Homo sapiens: one gene and its partners. The protein of the gene in region 1 purifies or fractionates together with the protein of each later gene. This does not show direct contact. Each region holds a gene or a part of one and is shown in the gene's direction. Other genes may lie near its edges.

The links. Proteins that work in one complex are often made in the same cells at the same time.
Region 2: the proteins of NRXN1 (region 1) and PALS1 purify together in Homo sapiens (affinity purification with mass spectrometry, with the first as the bait; one large-scale study listed by BioGRID). This does not show direct contact.
Region 3: the proteins of NRXN1 (region 1) and MEAK7 purify together in Homo sapiens (affinity purification with mass spectrometry, with the first as the bait; one large-scale study listed by BioGRID). This does not show direct contact.
Region 4: the proteins of NRXN1 (region 1) and RAI14 purify together in Homo sapiens (affinity purification with mass spectrometry, with the first as the bait; one large-scale study listed by BioGRID). This does not show direct contact.

What each region holds. Positions count from the first base shown.
Region 1 is NC_000002.12:51,029,333-51,033,299, reverse strand, and holds the start of NRXN1 (neurexin-1 isoform alpha4 precursor), read left to right. Parts: upstream 1-1,167; 5' UTR 1,168-1,319; intron 1,320-3,967.
Region 2 is NC_000014.9:67,300,435-67,303,934, forward strand, and holds part of PALS1 (protein PALS1), read left to right. Parts: intron 1-954; coding exon 955-1,032; intron 1,033-1,537; coding exon 1,538-1,684; intron 1,685-1,975; coding exon 1,976-2,137; intron 2,138-3,087; coding exon 3,088-3,165; intron 3,166-3,500. UniProt on the Homo sapiens protein: Plays a role in tight junction biogenesis and in the establishment of cell polarity in epithelial cells.
Region 3 is NC_000016.10:84,480,660-84,484,159, reverse strand, and holds part of MEAK7 (MTOR-associated protein MEAK7), read left to right. Parts: intron 1-1,449; coding exon 1,450-1,568; intron 1,569-3,451; coding exon 3,452-3,500. UniProt on the Homo sapiens protein: Activates an alternative mTOR signaling through RPS6KB2 activation and EIF4EBP1 repression to regulate cell proliferation and migration. Recruits MTOR at the lysosome, essential for MTOR signaling at the lysosome.
Region 4 is NC_000005.10:34,827,328-34,830,219, forward strand, and holds part of RAI14 (ankycorbin), read left to right. Parts: intron 1-2,404; coding exon 2,405-2,470; intron 2,471-2,892. UniProt on the Homo sapiens protein: Plays a role in actin regulation at the ectoplasmic specialization, a type of cell junction specific to testis. Important for establishment of sperm polarity and normal spermatid adhesion.

The sequences.
Region 1 (3,967 bases):
CCATAGGGTGCAAACCATAATTTAAAGCCACAGACCCCGAACTCCTCTACCACCTAATCTGTAAGCTCCCTTAGATTTAACCCCTTTCTCACCAAACCCAGCAATGCCTATTGGGCATGCCCAGTTGCATGGTTAGAGCCTCACACCCAGTTTTACTTTCACCAGGTTTTACCAGCTGCAAAAGGGAGGAGGAGACGGAGGGAAGAGTTAAACAGGTAGAAAACTTGGTTCAAGACAGAGCACAGAAGGCTGGAGAATGACGACAGGCTGCAGTAAAAAGCACCTTGTCAGACACAGTTGATCGTCGTCTGCAAGTTGGCATCTTACCCTGGTGGGTTCCTTTTACATCTTTTTGGCACAGCCTAGGCAAGTCATGAAGATTTGTTGTGATTACCCAAGGCAGAGCCACAGTAAGGGGTGGGGCAAGGGACATCGGATCTAGAAGAATGCCAGTGCCTGTGTGAGTCTTGCTTGCCCCTGCATTCCTCGAAAAGCTGCAGCTTCTTTTCAAGGGTTCCGAGCAGGAGACCAAGGTGCACAAGTAAAGCCAGAGCTCATCATAATTATCGACTCCTTGGCCCCTTCTCTTTGACTGCTGGACCCTTTCCTGGCACCCTCTCAGGTATCCCCGCCCAATCACTACCAAACCCCGGAGAAGTGGAATCTCCATACAGCTTTCCATGGGTCTAGCAGGGGCCTGGGCATGCTCAGTAGGCTACGTGGTTCTCTGGTTCGTGTTCGTTCGTTCTCTCTCTCTCTCTCTCTCTCTCTCTCTCTCTCTCTCTCTCTTTCTTTCTTTCCGATGGGGAAGAGAGGGTGGTGACAAGTTAGAAGCGCTTGCGGAAGGTCCCCGCCCCCAGGATCAGGCTCCCCCTGCAAGGGGACGATGCAAAGGTAAAAGCACCTCGCTCCGCAGCATCCAGACCTGGAGGGGCTGCGACCACGGGCCGAGCCCACCCATTCCCCAGCCAAAGGACGGGCCCGCCGCTCTCCATGGTACTGCGGAGAGCTCAGCTCCGCCCTTCTCTTTCAGAAGGACAGCACCCGGCGTCACGTAACCCAGCCTTCTCAGGCTCCACCACCGCCTTTTCCTTCCCAGCTCTTTCCCTCTCCTCCCCCTCCTCCTCCTTCTCCTCCTCCTCCTCCTCCTGCTCCCCTCCGTTGCCTGTTCTCCCCTCCCGCACTCCTGGAGATAGACGCTCAAGCCTGACGCCTCTGAAAAGGCAGCAGCAGTCGCCTTATCCATAGACCTCAGGAAATTCGCTTTGACCGATGCATGCTTCAGGCTCTGGCTCGAGCTGAGGGGAATAACCGGGCAGGTAAAGAAGCTCAATTTGGGTTGGGGGGAGGGGATGGGGCGAGGCAAGCTGAAGAAGGATATCTTTCCCCATTGTAACTGAGCCAGGATCTGCCACAAATACACAGGGAAAGATGGGTGGTGGGAGGGTGGAGGAGTGTAGATCTTGGTTGTTTTGCATGAAGCCTTTTAAATAGATGGCAAGAAGAGATGGTGGAACTGGGGTAGTAACTTAAAGGCTGAATGCAGTGATGTATTAGCAAAAGAAAGAAAATAAGAGACAGGCTAGATATCAAAGCAATAAAATATCTCTCCATATATTTCCTTCCCTACCTCATCAGCCCCACACTGTGCCCATCGTTAATTTGTGCAGTAGACCCCGAGCTCCAAGAAACTGCACTGGTATTAGAGATGGAGCTTAGAGACTGGGCGGGAAAGCCAGAGAGAATTTTGGCTGTGCATTGGTATTGAGAGACTTTGCAAAAGCCAGGGGTGAAATAATAAGCACTTCTAAAATTTCTCTCAGAGATTTCATGTTCTTTATGAAGATATATATATATATTGAAGGGTGCATGGAAAGGTGTAGGTGTGTATGTGTGTGTGATATCAGAAACATTAAAATATGCAACTGCAGCCGATGAGCGTACTGTATTGATCCTCCTAGTGACTTGGGATGAATTTGATTCTAGAAATGAAAGAAAAGATTAATGATGCTGTTAGTCTGCTTTTGAATTAGAGCGCTTCTTCTTTTGGCTGCAGTAAGGATGTTTTTCAGATCCCTTTATTTCATCCTCTAATTTGTGAACTGGCCAGGTCTTTCTGGCACCTAGAGAGAATCCTCTTTTCTCCATATAAATACAGATACTCGCTCACATACAATGAGCTTCCTCCAAGAACTGGGAAAACCAGTTAACCTCCCTGTGATAAGAATGTATATATATCTATATGTACATATATATTGCTCTACGGTTTTTCTCTCTTCCACCATCCCTTAAAATTGTCAAGGTGTGCATTAGTGGAGGAGGGCAGGAGGGACGGGAGAAAAAAGGTTATGTGATCAATGTAACATTAATTAATACAATAATTGGCTCCAACAGAGTTACACACACAAGAAAAAAAAAAAGGTTTTCTAACACATGAGCTTGAGAAAGGGTTCAAAGCACTACTCTTGATCATGATATTCCAGATTTATTTTGCAAATGACTGAAAATTTAGCAGATTCCTGAGTCCACTTAAAATATGAAAGTATACTGAATAATATGCTATTTCAGATGATTTGACGAGCCTCTTTCCTCGGGTTTGATATAGGAGAAGACAAGATATGACTGGTGATTGCTGATGGTGTGGAATGTATCAGCCATAATAAATAAGCAACTGAGATTTTTATTTCCTTTTGCTAGTGGGCAGTGTGTATGTGCGCACACCCACACTGTGTGTGTGTGTGTGTGTGTGTGTGTGTGTGTGTGTTGAAAGAGAGAGAACCAGTCATCAATTTCATCTGGGAGGAACTTGAAGTGGGATACCCTAGCTTGGTGGCTCTCAGCTGACACCTGTGGGGATTGCTCTGTACTGAAGAGAAATGCTCTCAGCTCCCCCCATGGAGAAGCAGCAGCACAATGCGGTGCCATAAATTACTGCTAGTTTCAGCTTGTAAGGGAAAAAAAGTGTTAATTGGGTAGTGAGCTTCTACATCCAGACAATAAATTTGGGGTGTGTGTGTGCATGTGTGTATGGTGTATATATATTGCAGTGTGTGTGTTTGCAAGAGGTGGGGAATATAAGAAATAGTGAGAAAAATAATGCACTTCCTTGACATGAACAGATTATACATTTGTAATTTTTTTCAAAAGGTAAGAGTAATTTTTTGGTTAAAAAATGACTTAGGAAAAAAATCAGTGATTATGATTTCTGTACCATTTCAAGAACCTGTCAGATTAGAGTTGAATAAAGAGAAGTGATTTAATAGTATAGTGAGTGATTCAAAGGTACGGTTTTAAATTCTAGCATCCTGGAGCCACTGCAGCTGAGATGACATACATGCCAACAGCTCTTCTGACCACACAAATTGTGAGGGCTGACAGCAAGATACAGACTTCAGGAGGAGTTAGATCTACACTTTTAGGCAAAATATTAAATACTTTATGCACCTTTAGAGAAGTTAATATTAGGGCAATTGAGACAATGCCAAAAACATAAATCTGGCTCCAATTAGTGGTTTTCTTTTACAACAGATTATTCATTAATATAAAGGAGAACTATACTTGTGTGAAATTTTGCAAGAGACTATCAAGAAACCATCAATATTCCTTCTAAGAAAAATAAAATGGCAGGAATGCTATACAAGTCTAAGCTGGCAGCTTCCTGCCAACAGTTTAATCTAATTTGCCAATTGTAAAATCTCTTAACTGAGATTTGAATAGGTTGTATTTTTACTGTCCACAGAACAAGCACACAACATAGGTAGAAATCCTTAAAAGCATTTGTTCTCCCCTCACATATTTTAAAAATTAAACTATCTTGCGAAAAGAAAAAGATAACCATAATCAAATTTCTCTTTAAAACTTCGGGTTACCAACTAACAGTTATAATAAACTACAAGGGTGTCATGGCTGACTGTAAAAGTGTCATATTAACTATTAGAAAATGTTAGGACTTACTTGTAGTGAGGAT
Region 2 (3,500 bases), on another chromosome or scaffold:
CTCATGCCTCAGCCTCTTGAGTAGCTGGAATTACAGGCACACGCCACCACGCCTGGCTAATTTTTGTATTTTTAGTAGAGACAGTATTTTGCCATGTTGGCCAGGCTGGTCTCGAACTCCTGACCTCAAGTGATCTGCCTGCTTTGGCTTCCCAAAGTGCTGGGATTACTGGTGTGAGCCATTGTATCTGGCCTGTTTTAAGATTTTCTTAATCAGTCTTTGAAGCACCATAAATAGTAGGTGCCATTCTAAAGATAAGGAAACAGGCTAAAAAAATTTATAACCAAGGGGAGTTTATCCTAGGAAGACAAAGATTTCTCGACTGTGGGAAATTTAATGTAATCCATTATATTATGGTGATTGTTCCATTACACTCATATAAATTCATCTTGTTAGACTGTCAGTCTTTTTTTTTAATTATATAAAAAAATTTATAAAATAGAGACAGGGTCTCACTGTGTTGCCCAGGCTGGTCTCAAACTCCTGGGCTTAAGCAATCCGCTTGCCTCAGCCTCTCAAAGTGCTGGGATTACAGGTGTGAGCCACTGCACCCAGCCTGACTATAACTCTTTAAGTTGTCATCTCTGATTTTAAATAGTCACATAAATGATTTAAAAACTATAAAATAGCAAGGTAACTGTTAGGACAGTTTTTCTTTTCTTATGTAATTATTATTAATGAATTTTATGGTATGTTGGGTGAAACGTTCAAGATGGAAGTATTTTGTCTATAGGCGTAAGTACCAAAATATTATTTAGTGTTTTTTTAATAAGAAATACTGTTGTTTTATCCATAATAACAAGATTGAAAACTCTAATAATTCTTTTTAGTGATTTTATTTCTTACAAGTATTTTTATTATTTTAATTTGTACTTAAAAAATATGACCCTGCATACAGGTGCTACTGATACTTCCTATAATCTAGGAAGAATAATCTTTATTTTTGTTTCTTAGGTACAAACTGTTTTGAAGCCAGTTCATCATAAGGAAGGACAAGAACTAACTGCTTTGCTGAATACTCCACATATTCAGGTAGAAAATGGACAGAATACTATATATGTGGTTTTTCCAGCATTCTTCTATTTTTTTAAATCAAAGACTCCAGTACTGGAAGAGATGTCAAACATTCTCTAGCCTATTTTGATGTTTACAACCCCATCTATAACATAGTAGTTATTGTTGGATTATATATTTTCAGATTTAAAATGAACCAAATTATTTTTGAAACAACTTTTTCTTTAAAAATTAGGCAAAAATTCTTCCCCCCTTTGGTTGTATTTTCTGTAAGTTTAATTATCTAGGGTGTGTAGACCTTTACATTGATGTTATCTTCCGAAGTTTAGTAAGCATTTTAGACTTTCATAACCCATTCCAGAGTATGCCCTTAGTATACTTAACACATCTTTATTATTAGCTCTAATTAATTATAACACTTTTAAAGATTTAATGGTCAGAATACTATGTACATAGGTTAAAAATCACTCTGCAGAAATAAATCATGCTGTTACTTAAAATGCCATGGATTTCTTTGAAACAGGCACTTTTACTGGCCCACGATAAGGTTGCTGAGCAGGAAATGCAGCTAGAGCCCATTACAGATGAGAGAGTTTATGAAAGTATTGGCCAGTATGGAGGAGAAACTGTAAAAATAGTTCGTATAGAAAAGGCTCGTGATATTCCGTTGGTAAGTGTCCCACATACTGTTTTTAAACAAGTGCATTTTTCTGCTGTTGTGTGCTTCAAAAGTCTGGTTAATTTCAGAATTCTAATGAATAGAGTATTTCTGAAGCAGAAAGTGTGGGGGAAATGGTCAACTTTTAAATCTAATTACAATTACTCTAGTTGTGTAAATAAATTTTTTCTTAAGATAACTGAAGGTTAGTATTGTTGAATGGAAAAAATAGAATTTAAAAATAAATGCTTAACAAAAATTGTATTATTTTTATTTTTAAATTATACATATATATATTTTTAGGGTGCTACAGTTCGTAATGAAATGGACTCTGTCATCATTAGCCGGATAGTAAAAGGGGGTGCTGCAGAGAAAAGTGGTCTGTTGCATGAAGGAGATGAAGTTCTAGAGATTAATGGCATTGAAATTCGGGGGAAAGATGTCAATGAGGTTTTTGACTTGTTGGTAAGTTGACGCAGCTAGAAGAATAATTGATAGCTTTTAGAAAGCTCTTATTAGACTTTAGAATAAAATATTTTTAAAATAACTGTTAAGAGCACTAGATGATTTCTAGCCTGATTTTTCCATGATGTAACTGTTCCACAGTATTTGTTAGCAGTTTTATTTTTGGGTGGTACCACTGATATTTTTTTACTTTCTGATGTATCACTATCACATATATTTTATTTTTCTGGAATCAGTAATATAACTCATTAATTCACTCAGTACATATTTATTGAGTGCCTAATATGCACTAGCCACTTGGGAAACAGTAACAAAACAAAGTCTGTGTCCTGATGATTTTTTGTGTTCTTTTATTTTATTATCTGTAATTGATTGTTGTTTTCCTAATAATATTAGATAATAACAGTGCTATAGATCTGCAGTGTCCGGCATAATAATCACTAGCTGCATATAGCTATTTCTGTTTAAATTAAGTAAAATTTAAAATTCAGTTCCTTATTCGCACTAGCTGCATTTCAAGTGCTGAGAAGCAGTATGTAGCTAATGGCTACCATTATTAAGATACAGAAATAGCACATTTCCATCATTGGAGAAAGTTCTATTGGATAGTGCTAGTATAATCAGAAAATCATTTCTAGACATCTTTTGAGTGCAATTTATGATCACTTTGTACACACGCACAGACTAGATTTATGGTCCTAGTTATTCAGCATCTGTTATTACAGTGGAATCTGTACTATCTACTGATTCTGTTGTAAAATCTAGAGACATCTTCACACACTTATTTTCATCCAGCCCCATTCATTGCTTTGGTAGAGCAAAGTGCTGCTGGTCATTTAAGTCTGTGGAGGGGTTCTGAAATAGTCCAGTTTAGGGAATATAGATCATAAAATCATGGAATGATTTTCATAAATGCAAATTTAAAAAATAACCTGATCTTTCTATTACAGTCTGATATGCATGGTACTTTGACTTTTGTCCTGATTCCCAGTCAACAGATCAAGCCGCCTCCTGCCAAGGAAACAGTAGTAAGTGATTTTTAAATGTTCATTATTTATGTGTTTGTGGATGCTGTTTACTTCTGTTACTGTTTACTGTTACAGAAATGTCACTGTTTCCTGTACTCAAATAAATTCAATCATTTTTATTTAAATAAATATGAAATATCAATGTTTTAAATTAGTAAACTCTGCACCTTTTTTTTTGGAAGGTGGAAGATGGAATCTCCATCTGTTGCCCAGGGTAGAGTGCAGTGGTGTGATCTTGGCTCACTGCAACCTATGCCTTCCAGGTTCAAATGATTCTCCCACCTCAGCCTCTTGAGTAGCTGGGATTCCAGGCGCATGCCACCACACCCAGCTGA
Region 3 (3,500 bases), on another chromosome or scaffold:
ATCGCAGCTGAGGCCTGAACTCTGTGGCCCTGCGACCTTGCTCCGCAGCAAGACGGGCTCAGGATTGCAAAGCAAAGGGCCGCTTACCTGAAGTCCAGTCGGGGAGAGCGGGGCGGGGGCAGTGCAGACGGGTGTGACCCAGCTGTTCATGGCGGCGTCTAAACCTGCCCTCAAGCCTCTGGGGCTGCTGAAACCCAGTGAAGCAAGCCTGAGTCTGTAGCCCAGAGTAAAGCCCTTCACTTAGCTGGTTCCAGTGGAACTTTCTAGCCTAACTATCCTCCTTCCTCCACCCGATGCTCTCAAGCCCCACTGTTCCGTACCTGTCCCACACCTTGTCCTCATGGGATCCCTTCTCCATGGGGACTCTTGCCCCAGCCAGCTCTGTTTCAGGGCCTCCCTCTTGACCTCGGAAGCTGCCTCCCAGAAGCCTCCCAGACCCTGATGGCAGAGGCCCCCCAGCGATCTTTCTAGATTGGAGCCTTGGGCGGTGTCAGCCCACACTCTACAGACTGAGCCCTGTTGGCTTGCTCGGGGCCATCGTCCTCTTCCAGCCTCCTGGTCTTGGTGCCCCCTTCTTATCTGCGTTCCATCATGGTGCCCCCAATTTGCTTCCTGTGACTTCTTTCCCACCTGATGAATAGCCCAACCCCAAATTCCCATGAGCTTGTTTCTCTGCAGCCTTCCAGCTTGTTGTGACAGTTGTGTATGCTGGTGTCGAGGCGGGCAGCCCTTCCGGCCAAGTCCTCAGAACATGGTGGGAAGTGTCCCTCGCTGGGAGCTCCGAGGACGAGGCCTGGCCTACGGCCCTGTCCCCAGTGCTGAGGTGCTTATGGAGTGGAGGAGTCTCTGAGACTGGGGACCCATAGTTTCCAGAGTTTTGACTGGTACCTTTCTTTTAATGGCCTGTGTGCCCACCCCATGCCTTTGGGCGAGGGTAAACTACTTCCTTTCGTAGGCCGTGCCCCTGGGGACAGCTCTGCAGCTGCAGGTTTTCTCTCTCTGCATGGTACGTTCTTTCAGGCCGGGGTCAGCACTACGCAGCGTCACTTGCCTGCTCAGGTAGGCTGTGCTGGAGGCCTCAGTCTCTGCGGAGTGACCACCTGCCCCGTGCTCATAAGCTAAAGGAAGCCTGCTCTTTCTGGCTCGGATGTGCTTGGCCAGCCTGAACTGATTCCAGCAGACAGTGGGCAGAGTTCTGATCTCTGCTCCCCTGGCCAGAGCTAAAAGATGTCCCATTCCTTATTAGCTGTCCCTCTAATCCCTGCATCCCCAGCTCATCCACCTGGGTCCCTAGCAGCTTGTCCCAAACCCTGATCTGCCGACACCTGGACATGGGTGAGAAGGGTCTTGGCCCTGTTGCTTCCTGAGCTGCAGCTTACCGGCATTTCCGGCCCTGTGGGACCGGCTCAGACACCGACCCTGTTTGTTTTGTTCTCTGGCTACTTTCAGGGGACAACAGATGCTTCCTGTTCTCCATCTGCCCCAGCATGGCTGTGTACACACACACGGGCTACAACGACCACTACATGTACTTGAACCATGGACAGCAGACGATCCCGAACGGACTGGTGAGCCCGGGCAGAGCGTGGTGGTCTTGCCTTGGTGATGTCCCCCAGCAAAGGTGTCAACCCCGAGGCTCAGCTCCACAGATCAGGGCAGGGCGCGTGGCATTCAGTTCCTCACGCACGCCATGTCCAGTTCCTTCTGTTTCCAGGGCCGGTGCTGGGGGCAGTGACAGCTGGGCCAGGGTTTCCCTTAGAGAAGGATGTGGCCTCTGCTGGGGCTTCTCAGTGGTTTGTGTGCAGATGGCACACTTGGCCCATTTTTCTGGCCCTCAGATGATTGGTTTGTAGCCTTTGTGGCTAGGGATGGTGTCAGCGCCAGACCTGTCCCTGCGCGTCGCTGGCCTGCCTCATACGTGGGAGTGCTGGACCAAGGGGAATGGACGGCCGGCAGCTCATGAGACAGCATGTGGGGCCCCAGTTGGGGTGACCGTGGCTCCTGTCCAGCCCTCGCTTCAGCTTGGTGACATGGCACAGGAAGCAGGGGGAAGCGGGGGAGGCCTAGGCCGGGTGCAGGGAGTGGGTGGGCACGGGTCCAGGCAGGCCCGAGGGCAGGAGTTGGGGCAGCATCCACGCCGAAGCTCAGCTTGCTCCTGCCAGCTCCCCTGCTGATTTCTTTCCTCTGCTGCTTGACAGAAAGCTCTTTTCTTTTCTTTTTTTTCTTTTTGAGATGGAGTCCACTCTTGTCCAGGCTGGAGTGCAGTGGCGCGATCTCGGCTCACTGCAAGCTCCGCCTCCCAGGTTCACGCCATTCTCCTGCCTCAGCCTCCCAAGTAGCTGGGACCACAGGCACCCGCTATCACGCCTGGCTAATTTTTTTGTATTTTTAGTAGAGACGGGGTTTCACCATGTTAGCCAGGATGGTCTCCATCTCCTGACCTCGTGATCCACCCGCCTTGGCCTCCTAAAGTGCTGGGATTACAGGCGTGAGCCACTGCGCCCAGCTGACAGAAAGCTCTTATTGGGAAAATCCAGCCCTGTTTCTGCAGAGCTGAGGGCAGAGAAGGCTGGTCCGATATAGGGACCAGCGTCCTTCCCAGGCTTACCACACTGCTGCCCTGGAGAGAGGGAGGGGCGTGGCCAGGCCACCTAGAACACCTGGCACCTTCTGGAAAGGGCGGTCTGGTGGCGGCAGGAGTGAGGGTGCCAGCCTCACAGGCAGCACCCGGCAGGCCCCGGTCATCGCTCGTCATTGGCCCTGAGAGAGCGGCTCCGCGTGTCAACTCTGGGCAGTGTGCTCGGGTCTCTGGTTGCCCAAGGTCAGAACTAGGGCGTGCCAGGTGTTACAGGCCTACCAGGGACCAGAGGAGGTTCTCTGCAGGGTGAGATTGAACAGCTCAGAGCCCAGCCATGTGACTGAGGGTGGAAGGCACAGGGGTTCGCATCCGCCTCCGGGTCTGCCTCCGCATCCTGTAAGCCACACACTCGGAGCTGAGTTTCCCAGCCTGTCTTGGGGTGAGGATCGCTGCCCGGAAGCGGGGCACTGGGGCCCCAACACAGGGGGTTTGCAGTGTCAGCTTCTGTGTTCACCTCTCCCCTTATCTTAACTGGGCGGGGCCCTGGGCCCTGGAGGTCTCTTTCTCTATATATATTTAACATTTTTAATTCTCTGATGTCACTTGTGCTTTCAGCCAGCAAATCTTCTTGAGAAAGAGCCATGGGGTGGGTGTCTGGAGACATAGATGACTGTTCTAGTAACTTGGCATGGGATGCTTAAATGGCAGTAATTGATATATTTCACAGTTAAGGAAAACAAGATGATGGCATTCACCACTCACCCGCCCCTGTCTCAGGCTGGTACTTAAGGCGAGAGGCTGGCTTGTGGTATTTGATGTCCACAGACCCTGAGGAGTTGCTGATGCTATTCTCTGTCCTGGCTTCCTTTGCAGGGTATGGGGGGGCAGCACAATTACTTTGGGCTTTGGGTGGATGTTGATT
Region 4 (2,892 bases), on another chromosome or scaffold:
GCCTTTTGCCATATAAAGTTTAACATTCACAGGTTCTGGGGATTAGGATGTGGACATCTTTCAAGAGCCATTATTTAGCTTACCACAATATCTGTTAAGGTTTGAGTTGGCATGGGTACATTCCGTTTTCTACCTAAAGTCCAGGGTTAGTCTGTCCTGGACTGTCTCTAGCTTCCATATACAAACAGAACATGGATTTGATGATTTCTTCGGAATAGACCTAACTGTAGTGAATTCAGGTTTCTGCAGTCCTTACTCTGGCTGGCCACAAAGTTCAATGCTAGCTTTGGAGGAAACAGCTCTAGAAATGGTGGATACTTAGGAGAAGCTGCTCTTTACTGTGTTCTGCAGGTCATTCTTCTCCTGATAAAATGGTATTACAGACTTGTAGATAAAGTGCTATTGGTTTATACAGTAATTCTTATAATTACGCAACATGTGTTTGTTGAGCTCTTACATCAGTATTATACATGGGGCTGATGATATAAAATGAGTAAGACTCAGTCCCTGCCCTCAAGGAGTTTATACTCTATATAAGTTATCAGCAAAGAGATGCCCAGCATACCGTGGGCATACAAAGGAAATGTGTCTACCCAATCTTGCTGAGTCATGAAAAGGTTCCTACGGGAGTTACACTTGTGCTGAGTCTTGAAGGCCTGAGTAAGAATATGTTGTTACTTAGCAAGGACTGACATATGGCACTAGCTGGCTTTTGGGAACCTTGGTGAGAACCATTCCAGTGGAGTGGGGAGGAGGGTAGAATCTGGACCGCAGTAGACTGGCTGCTAGAGAAGTAAGTAAGTAGATAGGTATCTGGTGGGGCTAACCAGTCGCAGTAGGGGTTGGGGGAAGCCTGAAGCAAGCTTGCTGGAAAGATGGGAAGTGGTGGTTAGGGTGTGGGATGCTTTCAGTTGAGATTTCAGAGGTGGTAATGATAGAGGCAGGGCTACAACCATGACAGGAGTTGCTGAACTGAAGAGGAGCATGTTATTAAAGCTGAAGTTGAGGAACTGAGAGGTCCAGGTGTTAGATGGATCATTCACACAGATATCAAAGCCAAGCGAATGATGACAGAGGCAGTGATAGAAAGGAAGCCAGATCAGAAGATAAAATCATAAATAATTGAGTAGAGGTTGCTGAAAGGTGGGGAGGGAACAACACAGAGAAATGCCAAATGTGCCTTCTTATGATGTGAACTTAAAGGACGGGTTTTAAAATGTCCCTTAATAACAGGAAAGATACCTCATACTCTGACACTGATGGGGGGAAGGAAGAATGGGTATTATGGACTTTTGTACATTTTTGAAGTAATCCATATATGATGGTCTCAATTTTCATGATGAATTAGGAGGACAGGTTCTTAGAACAAGAGTTTCAGAGATAAGACCCTTGAAACAGCCACTGAGAGGAACTGGAGTAATAGCTCAACAAGGAGAAATAGAAGCATCAGCGGCTGTATTGAGGAACCACTGGAGATTGGGGCCACCACCCTCTTTGCCTTCTTAGTACACTGATAGCTAAATAATTGAGCTCCCCAAGGATTATACAATGCTGGCCATATAGTGGGTAATCAATAATTCCCTTAAAAATAATAGGCTTTAAAAATTAAATTAGTACATATTTGGTCATTGTAGAAAAGTTGAAAAATAAAGAAAACTCTAACAAGTTCCTATAAATAAAAATTTTCCATAATTCAATAACTCTGAGATAATCACTTTTTACATTTGATATATTTCCTTGCAGTATTTACATTTAATGTAGCTGTATTTGCATAAGTATATGTACATATATACACACACATATATACATATATACACACATATATAGACACACATACACACACACACACATACACACACACATATATATATATATTTTGAGACAGAGTTTTGCTCTGTCACCCACGCTGGAGTGCAGTGGCGTGATCTCGGCTCACTACAACCTCTGCCTCCTAGGTTCAAGCGATTCTCTTGCCTCAGCCTCCTGAGTAGCTGGGATTACAGGTACTGACTACTACGCCTGGCTAATTTTTGTATTTTTAGTAGAGACGGGGTTTCACCATGTTGTCCAGGCTGGTCTCAAACTCCTGACCTCAAGTGATCCACCCACCTCAGCCGCCCAAAGAGCATATATTTTTAAAACCAAATGTGGGGTGATAATAACTCCTTTTTATACAGTTTTTTCTAGAGTTGACATACCAAGACTTTTTTCCCTAAGATGATTGACAAGTATTCAGAAATACACAAGCCAGTAAGGCCACAACAATTTTAGAAGCTTCCAGTGCTAGCATAAAGTGGAGGGGACCACTTGGGTAGCATTTGGCTGCAGCTTTCTCATAGTTTTTTGTTTTTGTTCTTTAAAGATCTCTTAAGCTCATTAATAATGTGAAATATTCCCTTTCTAGGAATGCAAGAAACAACACCAGGAGGTCATATCAGTTTACAGAATGCATCTTCTGTATGCTGTGCAGGTATGGTTATGCCCCTTGAAGTATCTGGACATCCTAAAGAAATACGGCAGCAGATGTTGACAGAACTCCCATCATTTAACTAGGAGAATGAACAAGAATTAGAGGAGAATCCTTTTCACTGGAAAGCCTGAATATGCCTTTTGCATTGCTTTGGATTCTGTGTCAGGAGCCTTGTGCCCTGTTTACCAGGAACAGCCCCATCTTTTAAAGCAGGGCCTCACTCTGTCATGCAGGCTGGAGTGTAATGGCATAATCTCGCCTCACTGCAGCCTCGACCCACGGGCTCAAGTGATCCTCCCACCTTAGCCTCCCAAGTAGGTGGGATTACAGGTACCCACCACCGTACCTGGCAAATTTTTGTATTTTTGTAGAGATGGGGCTTTGCCATGTTGCCCAGGCTGGTCTCAAACTCCTGAGCTCAA